Linked DNA regions of Homo sapiens: region 2 is linked to region 1. The links come from fine-mapping of genetic effects on gene expression. Tissue or cell type: whole blood. Region 1 holds a variant in brackets; the other region holds the start of a gene. All regions are shown on one strand. Distances are from middle to middle. Region 1 holds the start of LOC124906047 (a long non-coding RNA gene). Region 2 holds the start of ZNF2 (zinc finger protein 2).

Region 1 (8,330 bases):
ACCCACATCTACACCCAGCCACTTGGGTGAGTCTCACAAACACAAGGGTGAGAGAAAGAAGCCACACATGAGTACCCACTGTATAATTCCACTTATATGAAGTTCAAAGGCAGGCAAAACTGAACATGGTGCTAGAAATCAGAATTGGGTGGTGGTGGGGGTGCACAGTGATGGGGACAGGACTTGAGGGGATTTCTGGGAGTTGTTTATCAGGCCCTAATTCTTAGTCCAGATGCCAACTACACTGGGGAGTTTGCTCTATGAGAATTCATCAGACTGTGCGCTGGTAACTGGCCCTAATTCTTAGTCCAGACACCATCCACACAGGGAGTTCGCTGTATGAAATCCATCAAGCTGTGGGCTTGTAACTGCACACCTCTCTGGCTGTGTGCTGCCTTTGATAAAAGGTAAAAGAGGAAAGTCAGAAGGCAGTAGAGCCTAGTGGTTCTCAACTAGAGACCTGCCCAGCGGGAAGGGGTGTTCATTCCCCTAGCTGGGTTTTTCCATCAAGTGCTGACCCACTAACCACATCCCATCTACATTTCGCAACCTTTGTTCACAACAATTTTATGGAAATTATTGTCAGACACTTTGTTGATGTTTGTTAAAAGAGAAGGCTTGGCTGGGATGGGGGAGGTATGAGGCAGTCTTGGGAGAGGGAGATGAGATGGAATTGTGTGAAGAAGATGGAGGGTGGCTCACCAGCCTCCCCAGGAAGGAAGATCAGTCAAGATGCCCCCTGGCTGTGCTGCTGCTTGGAAACCAGCCATGTTGGGAGATGGGCCAACACGGGAGATGTTTCCACACCGCGGGACCCCTGGGGGGATGCCAGGATCCTGAGGGGGCCCTTTTTAGGGGAGCGATTGTAGGCTGGGAGCTTGAGGGCAGTGTGTGGTTTCCCCAGGGCAGGGGACTGTGCAAGGGGACCAGCAAGTGAGGCTTTGAGGGATTTTCCCCTGGGGCCCTCCTTCTGGGAGTGGGAAGAGGCACTTCACCAACCCCATTTCTAAAGCCTATCTGTGGGTCTTCTCTCAGCCTCTGCCCTACACTTTCCAAAAAGAGGGGATGACACAGCTTTGGCTACTAGAGCTGGTATCTCAGGATCTGTCACCACATTCTACCTTGGGATTTGCATAATTCATAGGTTAAGTTCTAGAGATCTGAAGAGTGCTCTTTCTGAAACTTCTTACTTTTTAACAATACCCATGGTCAGAAGCATGTTTTATATCGTAGACTGGTGCAAGGGCACACATGCACAGCTCTGAAAAACATGTGATGAAACAATATATTCTGTTACCCTGTCATTCTGATCCAGTCCATTAAGAAGAAAATCCACCTGGCCTCAGCGTCCCCACCCCTGGCTGGATGCTTCAATGGACGACCACTTGGGGAGAGTCAGGAGACCCATGAGGTCAGACTCACAGCCCCAAACTGGTGCTGAGAGTGTGGGGACTGGGCCTCCAGCGTTGATGCCAGGTCCCACAATGACTGGTGATCTTGGGCCAGTCACACTCTCTGGCCCCACTTCTCCATCTGTGAGATGGGTGTCATAATCCTGGGTTGTAGGGTTGCCATGGATGTTAAATAAGATTGTTCAGGGAGCACTCGGACAGGGCGCTGGGCAGCCGCATCCCCTCACACATCTGCCCTCTGCAAAGCCCACGCAGGCCTGGGGCATGCAGCCCTGGCCGGACGACTAAGCGGAGTCTTGGGCACAACATGACACTGCCCTTCTCGGGGGCTTTCCTGCTCCAGGCATGAAGGCAAGGTTTGACCTCACTCAAAAGTTAGTGAACTGAAAACAGACCAAGGGCCTAGGCAGCCTCCACACACACCCTGCCAGCCACGGAGCCGCCCGCTGTGGACACAGCCCCAGGTGCCCGGACTCACCACGGCAGCAATGTTTTCATGGTAGTGCCTGTAGGTGAAGCCGTCTTGCATCGTGATGGTGGCCAGGGCCTCCAGGACTGAGGCGCTGAGGTAAAAGAGGGCAGCGGTGCAGTGGTAGGCTGCGTCCTATGGGGCAGACGGGGTGTCAGAGGGATGGGGAGAGAGAGACGGGGCCCAGATGCAGAGCTGAGGTCCCCTCCACCCCCGCCCCTTGCCTCTCCCCCCACTTCCTTTGAATCCCACCCCTCCCAACCTTGTCACGGAGGTCCCATGCCTGCCCTGCTGTGCTGAGTCTCACTTCACTGCTGTGGGGCCAGAGTGAGCACTTTGCTGGGGATGGGACACTGGTCTCCCCTGAGGAAGGGTCAAGGGAGAGGTGGAGGAAGGGCCAGCAGCTTGGGGTGTCCCAGGGAAAAGCTGGTCCTGGATCTGAGAAGTGTCGTGCATGGCCACAGTCCAGGTTGGGTGTGGCCTCGCTGACCAGTGCAGGGTGAGGGAGGACCATGCTGTTTCTTTCGTTTTGTTTTGTTTTGTTTTGTTTTGTTTCATTGCTTATTTTTGGCCCCTGGTATATTTAAAAGCAAAAAAGGGCTGGGCGTGGTGGCTCATGACTGTAATCCTAGAGCTTTGGGAGATTGGTGCAGGAGGATCTCTTGAGGCCAGGACTTGAGACCAGCCTGGGAAACATAGTTAGATCCCCATTTCTACACAAAACAATACATCTTAGCTGGGTGTGGTGGCACATGCCTGTAGTCCCAGCTACTCAGGAGGCTGTGGCAGGACGATCACTTGAGCCTGGGAGGTTGAGGCTGCAGTGAGATGAGATTGCGCCACTGCACTCCAGCCTGGGTGACAGAATGAGACCCCCAACTCAAAATAAAGTAATAAATGAAAGCAAAAAGGTACTAAAACAGGGTTTTGTGTAGTTGTGATTTGGAAGTGATTTCAAAAGTCTAAGTAGCAGAGCTTTTGAGAGTGACAGCCTTGGCCAAATGGCCCCACCACCCCTACAGCAGGTAACAGGCAAGTGTCCTACATGTAAAAGTTACCTTTTCATGGGTCTCAAAGCAGAATTTATACAGAATAATGACCAAAGGCCGCTTCTGTTTCCCAGTGCTCTCTGGCAGCCCTGCTTGGAAGGCAGTGGCTGAGGAGCTGGACAGTAAGCATGGCCTGACCCTCAGAGCCAGGGCCAATTTCTGGAGCCCAACACCTTGGTCGGCCTCTGGGGCCCTGCTGCCTTGAGGTGAAAACAGCCCTTGCAGGTGATGGGAGGGGCAGGCAGGCACCTGGCGGGTACAGGTGGTGTGGGGGCTGGGCAGCTGGTTATCCATGGAAAGGCAGTCATGCAGGAGAACACAGAACAGGTCCAGTGAGGGTTGGCAGCGGCGACCTTGCCTCTGCCCCTGCCTCTCCTGATTCTGCTGCCAGGAGCCCTGGGCAGGCTCAGCCTTGGAACATGGTGGGGTGACATCTACGGAGAAGTCTCACCTGGCACTGGAAAAGCCCATCCTACTGGGCCAGGGACCAGTACTTCCTGCGCCCCCCTACAACCAGCAGCCACCCTGGGCTGGACTCACCAAGGTGACCCAGGAAGTCTCTCCACCGTGGGCTCCAATTATGTACAGGATGATCAAGGTGGTGGTGGCCACGAAGCAGAACACAGACACGAACATCACCCAGCCCTGGACCAGGGGCCAGGGCACCAGGGAGGAGGCCACCAGGATCCACACCAGGCCCCCGAAGATCTGCGGGGGAGGAGGAGGGGTGAGTTTTGGCCTAGAGGAGAGCCCCAGCCCAGGAAGGGCCCCCGACCAGCGGTCACATGGGGTGACTGGAGTGCAAAAACACAGGAAGCAGGCAAAGAGAACAGGGCAGGCATTTTCCTCTGCAAAAATGCATCTTTAGTCCCCCCAGGGCCCTGTGCTGGATCTCAATCCCAATCCCCGGCACGCTTGCCCTGATTAACTTTTTAAAACTTTTTTTTCTTGAGACAGAGTCTTGCTCTGTCACCCAGGCGTGAGTACAGTGGCGTGTGGCTCACTGCAACCTCTGCCTCCTGGGTTCAAGTGATTCTCATGCCTCAGCTTCCTGAGTAGCTGGGATTACAGGTGCATGCCACCATGCCCAGCTAATTTTTCTATTTTTGGTAGAGACGGGGTTTCACCATGTTGGCCAGGCTGGTCTTGAACTCCTGACCTCAGGTGATCTGCCCTCCTCAGCCTCCCAAAGGGTTGGGATTACAGGCGTGAGCCACTGCACCTGGCCTGAGTAACTTTTTAAATATGGGTTTAATTTTTTTATTTAACAAACACTTATATCAGACCTACATTCCAGGCACTATCCTAAGCACTTTACAAATAATAACTCAGTGATTCTCACAGTAACCCTCTGAGCAATGCTGACCTGTTTGCCAGATGAGGAAACTGAGGTAGGTGGAAGTTAAGTAATTCATCATTCTGAGAAAGGATTTATGCCATTTGGTATTGTCATGAGAAGAGCTGCTATTTCTTCTGATATTCTAGCCCTCCTACTTGCTTTGATATTAAAATGTCCTTTCCTTTATGCAATGGTAGTGACCAGCAGATCTTTTTGGTCTTTATTTGGCAAAACAAATTAACCACACTGTCAGTAGTCCCCTGCCCTGCCCTTCCTTTCTTTCTCTCTCTCTCTTTCCTTCATTTCTTCTTCCCTCCCTCCCTCTCCTTCCTTCCTTCTTTTTCTTTCTTTCTTTCTTCTTTCTTTCTTT[CTTTT/T]TTCTCTTTCTTTCTTTCTCTTTCTCTCTTTCTTTCTCTCTCTTTCTCTCTCTCTCTTTCTTTTCTCTCTCTCTCTCCCTTTCTCTTTCTCTCTCTCTCTCCCTTTCTCTTTCTCTCTCTTTCTTTCTCTTGCTCATTATTTCTTTTTCTGGATTCAACTGTTTATATTCCCAAGTCCAGGAAGTGTTCTGATGATCAGATTTGGAGTTGGAATGGAGTAACCAAGGACAGCCTTGTCTCTTTGGATGGCTGAGGATGGGCATGAGGAAAGTACAGTCCCGTGGTTATCCAGAATACACCCCAGTTGATGTCGCCAGGGTCAGTGAGCCCCATACAGTCAAAGAGGAGCAGACATGGGGGCCAGTAGCACCCCTCAGTAGCCCAGCCCCGCTCCTCGCCGTGGATGGACACATACAAACCCGCTCCCCACCGCGGATGGGTACGTACAAACTCCGTTCCTCACTGTGGACAGGCGTGTACAAACCCCAGCGGGGACTTTCTGCACTTCTCTTTCCCTTCTCCTCATCTCCCCCAGCGCCACCCCCACCCAGTAAGAATCAGCTCAGCCTCATCCACATGTTCCCCACTTGGATGAGGACTGGGCTCGAAGCACTCCAGGCCTATGTGGAGATTCCTTTGCAGCCAAAAGTCTCCAAGGTACTACAGAAGTGTCTGGGGGGCTGAGGATGGGGCTGCCCTCCCAGGCCTATGTCCCCTGTGGTTTGAATTCACATAGCACCTTGACCCCCCCACCTCCCTGCACCTGCTGCCCACCTGCTGGGTGAGAGATACCGCTGTCTTCACAGGTGTTCTCTGAGCTGCTTGACTGAGAAGCAATCAGGAGAGAATTGCATTTGGGTAGAAAAATCAGTGCAATGAAGACTTTGGATTTATTAAAACCAAGTTGTCCCTAAGGAATCAGATGTGGGCATCTCTGACCAGAAAGCGTCCTCTGCTGATGGATCTTAGGTTGCCTGAAGGCACGTGGCAGGGCCGGTGGGATGCACTGTGCATCTTACAAAAATGGGAGCAAAATCAATTAAATAAAAATGCCCAGACCACCATGGAATAAGATGTGTGTGTAGATTTCATCCACAGTTGAGTTTAAGATTCAACAGATTATGTGGCCTTTTCCATAACGGGCACTGACGGAGGGACAGGAGCACATTGGTACAGGCAGGGCTTGGATTCAGGAGGCATGCGAGGGTGGCATGGAGAAATAGGAGGAGGATCCAGCGGGCACATCCAGTGGGAAGAGGGAGGCCCTGGCCTGGGAACCCCTCTCCTAAGTGCCTTTTGCCTGGTGGCTACGTGACCCTCCCAGGAGGACCAATTTAAGTTGCTTCCTCGTTCACACAGTCTCAGGGAGTCCTGCACGTCTTCTCTGTAGCACTCAGCACAAACACAGGTATATTGGGTTAGGGATAACATGGCGCTTTCCCTGACCAGGTGATGGTGGGCTTGAGGTCTGCCTTGCTCACAGCTGCCTCACTGGTGGGGACCAGGAGAAGACCCATCCAGCCATGCATCGGTGTCCAAGTCAGCTAACGGGCCTTGGTCTCCTGGTACCTGGGTGTGGCTGAACTAGAGCCACTTATGAACCAAACCCCAAAGGAGCAGCTTGGGTTGCACATGGTTGGGAAGAGACTCCGTTATGGAATCCCAGTGGGACCCCGTGGGCCAGAGGCGCTTACGGGTGACCTATACACATGCTATCGAGGAACACTGAATTTCACAGTGAGGAAACGATTTTCCTCCTCCTTTACTCTCTTTGGTTTTTCTGATGAAGGCAAGAAGGGCTCAGGGTGGAGCCAGGTGTCTGGAGTTCTCTAATAGCGTGGATAGGCAAAGGTAAACCGGATAGTGACATTGTTTCTATGCTTATGGTTGCAATGTCATTATTTTGGGAAAAATTAACTGTAAAATACATATGAGGTAAATTAATGCACAGATGGCAGCTGGAAATGGCAAATCTGAGAAGGTAGTCCTCAGCTCCTGTCTGCAGAGTCATCTCACTCCACTCCATTCTTCCCACGTGGCTTAAGATGTGACTGGTGTGAGGAATCAATGGCAGGAAAAGTGAGGGGAAGTCAGTGTGTGGAGAGCTGGTCACAGCCTCCTGTGTGCACCTTGCTGGCTGCAGCCACAGCCTGGGCTCTGAGCTTCCGGCAGCTGCGCGGAGGGCCTTGAGGTCAGGCCAGACTCTGCCCTGTTCCAGTGTGTGCTTTTACCAACCTGATGAAGACTATTTTCCAGCTCCCTGGGAAATTCCATGCTCCCCACACTGGCTCGCAGGTTCCTGCAGTCTATAGTGGGAACCTTGTCCACAGTTGTCCATAGAACAAAGCCCACTATGGGTTTAACCCCAGCTCCTGACAGATCTCAGGACCCCACCCAGCCTCTGGGGGCATCACCTTGCAAGTGAGTCCTTTAAAAAATGAGGCCGACTTTTTTCCTTTGCATGGTATATTTATAGCAGTATGTTTCATAGTGAGATGGTGGGGAGACATTATCTTTTTCTTTTCTTAAACAGCTTTATGAGCTATAATTCACAGCCCATGCAGTTCCCCCATTGAAAGGGTATGATTCCCTGGTTTTCAGAATATTCGCAGATACGTGCGTCCATCACCACAGTCAATCTTGGAACATTGTCATCACCTTGGAAAGAAATCCCATGAGCTGTGGCTTCCCTGCCCCCATTCCAAGCAACCACTAATCTACTTTCTATCTCTACAAACTTCCATATTTTGAACTTTCATATGAATGGAATCATTCAACATATGGACTTTTGTGGCTCACTTCTTTCATTTAGTATAATGTCTTCAGGTGAGAAATTCTCTCTCAAGGGGACTTACACAGAATATCTCTACCGTTGCAGCTGCACAGTGCCCCTTTTGGACCCCACCATTCAGGGGGCCCTGGGTGAGTGTGTCTCATGTCCCTGGAGCCTCCAACCCAGAAGCCTCTGAGGAACCACGTTCCTAGGGACGCTCTTACACCAGTCCTTGCCTGTCCCAGAAACATATGAAGGTGAAGGTAGTCACAGATGTCTCAGCACAGATGACATCATGAAAGCCAGGGGTTTGCTCCCAGGGGATGGGCAGTGGGGCGGTCGACCTTCCGCTCAGCACTGCCCAGGAGATGCCCAGGGAGGACTGCAGAGCCCAGGGTCACAGGGGCCATCTGGGGGACAGGGCGGAGGAGGGTGAAGAGCAATCCTGAGAAGAAGAGGAGGATACGGGAAAGGCACAGCCGAGTCAGGAGAGATTTCATTCCCGGCTAGGTGTCTGTGGAACAGAAACAGCTGTTGCCTCAGCTGAGTCATGCCCCTTGCCTTTGGAGCACAGGCCTTTGCCGCGGTCTTCTCTGGGAGAATTCTAATGCAGAGGCGCCCTGCCAGCTCCCTCCCCTTGGCAGGGGACTCCCGTTCTCAGAGGAGCTGTCCTCCGAAGTCACTGTGGGACGCTGCAGCAAGTGATTCTGCCTCTTGGCCCCAGCTTCCTCTCTGCAAATGGCAACTCACAGCAGTCTCCCCACACTGGGGGCTGGTGTGAACTGGCTAAAACTACAGATGTGAGTATGAAGCTTCTGGCACTGAGCCCAGCACTACCAATACCTGGGAATAAGTTGTCGTTCATGCAGGAGGCTGACAGCTCAGTGGAAACAGATGCATAAGCAGCCACTTAA
Region 2 (8,330 bases), 120 kb before region 1:
AAACAAGTTTAGCTAAGTATAAGCAAAAACTAATAAACAAAAAACACCCCCAACCTAACGGGGAGAGATTAGGGTTTGAATCTTGCTGGGAGGAGGCAGATATAAACACAAACAGAAACAAAGACATGTCAATTGATAACCAGAGCATGCAACGTGTATTGTCTAAAAGTATTCTTTTCCTTTTTGGTCTGTTAAGATTCGTCCATCACAAGAGGGTATCCAAATATTACCCTTAGGCCCTAGAAATAAGTCAAAATTAGCATTTAGAGATACAGGAAAGTGTAGTCATTGGGAGTACAGGCTCTGGAGACAGACTGCCTGAAATCAAAATCCACCTCTGCCTCTTCCTACCGGTGCTACCTCAGGAAAGTTTCTTAACCTGTCTCAGTCTGCCTGTTTGCAAAACTGGAATAACGGAAGTAATATCTCTTGCAGTTATCTTGATGCTTAAATAGGGTAACACATGTAACACATTTAGAATAATGTGCTAAGTAAAGTTAGTATAAGCTAATGTAATGTAATAAGTAATGTTATAATTCTAGGAAGGTAGACACACTGAAAATATTAATTACACTGAGTTGTTGCATTTTTTTGTTTGTTTTTTTTGAGACAGGGTCTCGCTCTGTCTCCCGGGCTGGAGTGCAATGACATTATCTCGGCTCACTGCAACCTCTGCCTCCCCGGTTCAAGCGATTCTCCTGCCTCAGCCTCCTGAGTAGCTGGGATTATAGGTGCCTGCCACCATGCCTGGCTAATTTTTGTATTTTTGTAGAGGGTTTCACCATCTTGGCCGGGCGGGTCTTGAACTCCTGACCTCAGGTGATCTCCCCACCTTGGCATCCCAAAGTGCTGAGATTATAGGCATGAGCCACTGCGCCTGGCCGAGTTGCTGCTATTTTAGAGTAGGTTTAAATGTAAGTGCAGTAATAACTTTGGAGTCAAAGTATTTGTATATGTTTGTCTAAAGCACTGGAGCTTTTTGAACAAATCAAACCATATCCAAAACTGCAGTCGAAACTGCTCAGTGTTAAATGTTTAAAGACAATTTTCAAAGTTTTGTTTATTAGATTACAACTTTAATTAAACTGAGCACTGAACGAATTACAAATGGTGGTGAACATATAAGCTCCCCAGTTATTAAACAACCAGTGGATACTCCCAAAGTGCTCCTCATCCGTAGACTTCTCTCCCCATTAGGTTTAGACTCCACCAGCAGTCACTTCAGTAAGCTCACTGACACTGAAGACTTCTCAAATCCACCAAACTCACAGGGAGTTACTGCTAGCCAAGAACCACCTCCACTTCTGTGTTCTCTTTTCCTATCCCTGCATCTCAGAGTATCACTGGAGAAAATGTCCCCTAAATTCAGTCTATATCTTCAAACGAGCCCTTGACATCGTCCAGAAAGCTTTTACTGCTCCCATCTTAGCTACATGGCTATTCCAAACCTCCATGGGTACCATTCAATTTCCGCATAACTTTTGTCTTCTACCACACCAAAGATTCCCAGGAATGAGTTTCAAGGGAAGCAGGGTTATATGGTAGAAAGCATTCCACAAGCATGGAATTATTAACCATGAAGCCTTGGATGAGTTACTTAAGCCAACAGTTGTTTACCACCTAACTCACAGCATAGTTATAAATGGTGAGACCATTAATATAAAGCATTTATCATACAGTTCATTCAACAAATAAAGTTCTCTTCCTTTCTACTGCCCAATGCAATCCATCCACTCATCCCACTATTTGATGAATATGTACCAAGTAGCTGTTATGTGCTAGGGCAGCGAGATGTGTGAGGTCAACAAGACAGAAATGTCTGTCTCCAGGACTTTACCTTTGTGTCCTATACCCTGGGTTCCACTGTTTTTCACATTGCTTCCTCTCAGAATTTGTCCCTGCACTTCCCAGTATTTTTTTTTTTTTTTTTTGAGACGGAGTCTGGCTCTGTCGCCCAGGCTGGAGTGCAATGGCACGATCTTGGCTCACTGCAACCTCTGCCTCCCAGGTTCAAGCGATTCTCCTGCCTCAGCCTCCTGAGTAGCTGGGACTACAGGCGCGGGCCACCATGCCCAGCTAATTTTTGTATTTTTAGTAGAGACAGAGTTTCACCATTTTGGCCAGGATGGTTTCAATCTCTTGACCTCATGATCTGCCTGCCTCAGCCTCCCACAGTGCTGGGATTACAGGCATGAGCCACAGCGCCCAGACCCCAGTCTTTTTTTTTTTTTCTTCCAGCATTTTCCACCCCAGTAGCACTTTCTTTCAACATCTTCAAAGACATACAAGCCTCCTCTACCTGAAACTATTTTCACTGAATCCCATGACCTCCTTCTAGCAAAGCAGTTCTCATTTAGGTTGTCCTTTCATGATCAAACTTTTTGGAGAATAATAACCTACTGACTCCACACTGTTACCACTTACTCTTCTCCAGTCCCTGTTTTTCAGCTTTTGCCCCTCACACACCTGAAATGGCATGCTTGAAAACTACTTTTTTTTTTTTTTTTTGAGACGGAATTTCACTCTTGTCGCCCAGGCTGAAGAGCAATGGCATCATCTCGGCTCACTGCAACCTCCACCTCTCGGGCTCAAGTGATTCTCCCACCTCAGCCTCCCAAGTAGCTGGGATTACAGGCACCCGCCATCATGCCCTGCTAATTTTTGTATTTTTGTAGAGACGGGGTTTCACCATGTTGGCCAGGCTGGTCTTGAACTCCTGACGTCAAGTGATCTGCCCACCTCGGCTTCCCAAAGTGCTGGGATTACAGGCATGAGCTACCGCACCTGGCCTACCAATGCATTTCTGATCCTATTATCTCTATTTCTTTCTTTTTTTTTTTTTTTTTTTTTGAGACTGAGTCTCGCTCTGTCACCCAGGCTGGAGTGCAGTGGCGCAATCTTGGCTCACTGCAAGCTCCGCCTGCCGGGTTCATGCCATTCTCCTGCCTCAGCCTCCCGAGTAGCCGGGACTACAGGCGCCCGCCACCACGCCCGGCTAATTTTTTGTATTTTTTTAGTAGAGACGGGGTTTCACCGTGTTAGCCAGGATGGTCTCGATCTCCTGACCTCGTGATCCGCCCGCCTCAGACTCCCAAAGTGCTGGGACTTACAGGCGTGAGCCACTGTGCCCGGCCATATTATCTATTTCTCTGTAGCTTTTCACTGTTCGGACAAGCTTCTGCTTATTCAAGTGGTTACTGTAACTGCTATGATACTGCACTAGCTTTTCTTCCAACCACTAAAATTGCTGTCTTTCTGTGACTCTTTTTCCCCACTTTTGCCCTGGAAACATGGATGCTGCCCATAGCTCAGTCTTTGTACTTTCTTCGTTTTTGCCATCCCTCAGAAAGTCCATCCACATTCAGGGCTCCATTTTCAAACTCTACAGATGTCCATGTCCTGTAATTGTATTGTAATTTTACAATACAACTGTATTGCATTCTTCCAGACTCATCCTGCATTTCCAAATGACTGCAAACCTTAAATCAGGCGTTCCACCATCACCTCAAAACTATCTTCCTTTAGGCAATTCCACACATCAACGCCTCTTCCTGGCTTTACATTTGTATCAGATGTTTTATTGTTCTCCCAGGTGTCCCAAATTCAAACTCTTACCTCACTCTCTTTCCTCCCAAATCTAGTCACCAGGCCCTTTTGACTCTTCTTTTGCAGTGTCATCTGTATCCTTCCCTTTCACTACCACCACCATAATTCAAGTCCACAACATCTTACTCCAAAACTACCATACATTCCTAAGTAGCTCTCTGCTACTGGTCCTTTCCCCTCTCTAGTCCTGAATGTGACCTCTAGAATAACTGTCTCCAAATAGTTTCATTCGTGTCAGTCCCTGGATCACACCTATATAAGCCACCTTGCCTACTGAGTCTTGTCCTGATTCTCTGAGTCCCGGGCCCTGGCTCCCAGCGTACCTTTTCTTCAACCTTGTCTACCACTGTTCCTGCATTTCTGTAAAAACTATCTCCAGCTCAAATCTGCCTAACGCTTAGCTGCTTCTTTCGTGGTTTTTGTTTTGTTGTTGTTGTTTTTCTTTCACGTCAAATCCCACCTCCTCCATGAAGCCCTCCAGCACTCGTGCGGAGGCCCAGGGCAGGGAGCTAAATGAGGCAATCTGAGGCGCTGTCTGGCAAAGACGGAGCGGCAGCATCCTAGATTTGGTGTCAATTCCACCCACGTTCATTAAGCACCCATTATGGGAAGAAGAAACGGGAGAGGCGGAGGAAGACTCCAAACCTCCAACCTTAAAGTCCGGGACCGACATACAATGGGTGCCCAGACCCCACGGGACACACGCACACACGGGGGTGGATGCACAACTTTCCGTCCGCACCGAGACGTCGCGACACACGCTCTGCAGGCTGGCCTCGCCCGTGTCACCCCGTTTTGCTCCCACAGCACCTCCCCAAAGTTCTCATGTCCCCTCTCTCGGCTGCTGCGCTCACTCCGCTCCTTGAAGACACACACCCACAACCCTCACCTCCGGCACAGAGTGCTCGGGACCCGGGAAGACGGCGCCTCTTCAGGTCGGGAAACCAACGCGCCTGCGCACAGGGTCCTGGCGACTGCGCTCCCAATCAATGCGGGGCCTTCGCAAGGACTTCATCTCCCAGAAGTCTCGGCGTCCGGTGCGCTTTAATATGACGTCCGAAAATGTGTGCAAACGCCGGCTTCCCGTGGCTGAACAGGATCCAAAATGGCAGCGCTGTCGCCTTAGCTGGGAGAGCGAGCCGTTGTGGCTGTTTGGGAGACTTATGGTCACCCTGAAGTACTGCCTGCCTCTAGTGTCGCGTCCCTCCAGTATCCGATGGGAGCGCCGTCCGCAGGGAATGTGTCTCTCTGATCATGGTGCCTCGTGTCCAGCTCTGGGGAAGACCGAGACGAAATCGAGTCAGCTGGCGTTGGGAGAGGGCTTATTTCCGCTTCCGCTTGCCCACTTTCAGGAATTTGATTCTGAGAGCAGGGCTGCGGTTCCAGGCAGGGTTTGTACACATATTTGCGTTGGAAGGAGAGAGGAGCCTAGGACACATATGTATTAACTGTGCAGCTGGTCCGACTCCCGACAGCTTCAGCGCACACCAGCCAGCCTTGGAGTTGCTGGAACGGCCCTGGCTGCAAGCTGGAATCACCCGGAGAGCTTTCGACATTGATGCCTGAGGCCCAGCTGTGGAGCGACAGTTTGAAAAGAGCTGCAGGTGACTCTAATGTGCAGCTAAAGCTAGGAACCACTGAGCTACATCTCAGGGAAGACTGAAAATTACAAAGAATATGATAAAATCTTACTTCAGGAACAAAGCTACGTTTTTCCAGGTTAATTTATTAGTGGTTTGGGTTTTTTTTAAGTTTTTGTGGGTACACAGTAGGTGTGAACATTTATGGGCCACCTGAGATATTTTGACACAGGCATGCAATAAGTAATAATCTCATCAGGACAAATGGGATATCCATCACCTCAAGCATTTGTCCTTTGTGTTACAAACGATCCAGTTATATTCTTTTAGTTACTTTAAAATATACAATATTATTGGCTGTAATTACTCTGATGTGCTATCAAATACTAGTTATACTATTTCTTATTCTATTTTTTGTACCCATTAACTATCCCCACTTCCCCACCCCGCCAACCCTTCCCAGTCTGTTAACCATCCTTCTACTCTCCATCTCCATAAGACTACACTTTCATTCAAAAAATCCAAATTGCTCACCATAAGCAAGGCACAGTTACAAATATGAGTAAGTTACTGCCCCAAATGAACTCTTGGTCCAATGGAAAAAATCAGAATGTAAAATCACAATAGAGGCAGTATGTTCTATAATTATGTCACATTCAACATACTATGAGAGTACAATGGAGGAAGCTATTAACTATGGCCGGGAAAGGTGGGAAAGGATTCCTTTCACTGGTATACTTAAATACTTAAGAAAAAAAAAGTGTGATCTAAACAGTGAATAGTACATGCAAAGGCATAGTCTAGAGGATAAAAGTGAAAATAATTAGTAGCAAAATGAATGCCTTGTGGATGAGGTTTAGGGGCCAATAACTATCTTGAGGTAAGGCCAGGTTGTGGCTGCCTTTGTGTTGTACTAAGGGGTTTGGACCTTCCTAGGAGATTAGAGCTTGATTAAAGTCACAACATCCATAAGAGAAATACTTTTTTTTTTTTGTTCCCTTCTGTGTGGTGGTTTTTATTATTTAGCCTTATACTGAGGGTGGAAACTGGGGTCCTGAAAGTGTTTCCTTCTAGAATATTCCCCACCCACTGGCAGGCCCTAGGCTTTGTCTTTACCGCTTCCAGGTAGCTGCCAAAGTGGAAGTTTATGTGCTCTAGGATTTAGCAGTCTAAAAGTCAGGTTTGTTGCTCGATTCTCAGAATTCTAGCTCTCACTTTATTTATTTTTTGAGACAGGCTCTGGCTGTGTCAGCCAGGCCAGAATGCAGTGGCATGCTCTCAGCTCACTGCAACCTCCACCTCCTGGGCTCACGTAGTCCTCCCATCTCAGCCTCAAGAGTAGCTGGGACTACAGGCATGCACCACCATGTCTGGCTACTTTTTGTATTTTTTTGTAGACATGGGGTTTTACCATGTTGCCCAGGCTGGTTTCAAACTCGGGCTCAAGCAATCCACCCTCTTCGGCCTCCCAGAGTGCTAGGATTATAGGCATGAGCCACTGCACCTGGCCCATTTCACTTTATTTTTTTAAATGTTTACAAATTCCTCACTTTCATGCCTGCTCATCAGTGTGTTTATAAAGATGTTTGCAATTTTTCAGCATTTTTAGTTTTTTTATTAAGAGGGCTGTTTAGGCCATCTAATCGGCCATGTTACTGGGAAGATTAAGAGAATTTTAACTGATATTCTCAAAAGAGTTAGGAGGAGCATATGGAAGCTAAGCAGCCAAGAAGTGACATACATCCATCTTTTTAGAGTAAAACAGGTATCTCTTGGGCCCAGAAGCTTGTAGGCTCTGCCAAATTGCAGGATGTTATGGCCGTCTGATGCTGTTTAACCACTCCAAACTTAGTGGCTGAAAACAACAATTTTATTAGGCCAACATGTTCTGTGGGTCGGGAACTTGGATGGGCACAACAGGGATGGGCACACAGGGATATCATTTGGATATCCTCTCCAAATCTCATGTTGAGATGTAAACCCCAGTGTTGGAGATGGGGCCTGGTGGGAGGTATTTGGGTGATGGGGGCAGATCCCTCATGGCTTGGTGCCGTCCTTGCAATAGTGAGTACTCCTGAGATCTGGTTGTTTACGTGTGTGACACCTTCCTGCCCTCCCCAACTCTGTTTTGTTCCTGCTTTCACCATGCAAAGTGCAAACTCCCACTTCACCTTCCACAGTGAGTGAAAGCTCCCTGAGGCCTCCCCAGTAGCCAAACAGATGCCGTTGCCATGCTTCCTGTACAGCCAGCAGAACCAAGAGCCAAGGAAACCTCTTTTCTTTATAAATTACCCAGTTTCAGGTATTTCTTTATAGCAGTGCAAAATGGCCTAACACAGCTCGTTTCTGCTTCACAATTTCTGGATCCTCAATTGGGAGGACTATATCTGGCACCCAGATTGGCACCCGTGGCTAGGCTCAGCTGGGACTGTTCGCCAGTGTCCCCGCATGTAGCCTCTCTTTGTGCTTGGACTTCCTCACAACATGGTGGCCTCGGGGCAATCAGGCTTCTTGCACCTCATTTCAGGGCTCTAAGAGGGTCCCAGTGAGCAAGACAGAAGCTGCATGGCTTTATTTATTTATTTATTTATTTTGGAGACGGTTTCGCTCTTGTTGCCTGAGCTGGAGTGCAATGGCACGATCTTGGCTCACCACAACCTCCGCATCCCGAGTTCAAGTGATTCTTCTGCCTCAGCCTCCCGAGTACCTGGGATTACAGGCGTGTGCCACCATGCCCAGCTAATTGTGTATTTTTAGTAGAGACAGGTTTTCTCCATTTTGGTCAGGTTGGTCTCCTGAGCTCAGGTGATCCGCCCACCTCGGCCTCCCAAAGTGCTGGGATTACAGGCATGAGCCACTGCGCCCGGCCAAGAAGCCAGTTTTCGTTTCTTTTTTTTTTTTTTTTTTGAGATGGAGTCTTGCTCTGTCACCCAGGCTGGAGTGCAGTGTTGCAACCTCGGCCCACTGCAGCCTCTGCCTCCCGGGTTCCAGAGATTTTCGTGCCTCAGCCTCCTAGGTAGCTGGGATTACAGGCGCACGCCACCACACGCGGCTAATTTTTGTATTTTTAGTAGAGACGGGGTTTAGTAGAGACAGGTGTGAGCCACTGCGCCCGGCCGCCAGTCTTAAAAATTTACAAACTGT

Evidence for each region.
Region 2: it holds the start of ZNF2, and the variant in region 1 is fine-mapped to the expression of ZNF2 in whole blood (INTERVAL, PIP above 0.99).

What each region holds. Positions count from the first base shown.
Region 1 is chr2:95,043,267-95,051,596 of GRCh38, reverse strand. It overlaps MAL (mal, T cell differentiation protein (MAL blood group)), which reads right to left. Exons shown (of 4, transcript NM_002371.4): 2 at 3,471-3,638; 3 at 1,891-2,016. LOC124906047 (a long non-coding RNA gene) reads left to right here and starts at 3,524. Exons shown (of 3, transcript XR_007087138.1): 1 at 3,524-4,321; 2 at 4,819-5,082; 3 at 5,450-5,712. RefSeq lists enhancers at 3,356-3,895, 7,354-8,009. The variant CTTTT/T (reference allele first, on the strand shown) is at 4,640.
Region 2 is chr2:95,162,026-95,170,355 of GRCh38, reverse strand. It overlaps ZNF2 (zinc finger protein 2), which reads right to left and starts at 4,547. Exons shown (of 5, transcript NM_021088.4): 1 at 4,496-4,547. RefSeq lists enhancers at 4,431-4,860, 4,288-4,922, 4,923-5,559.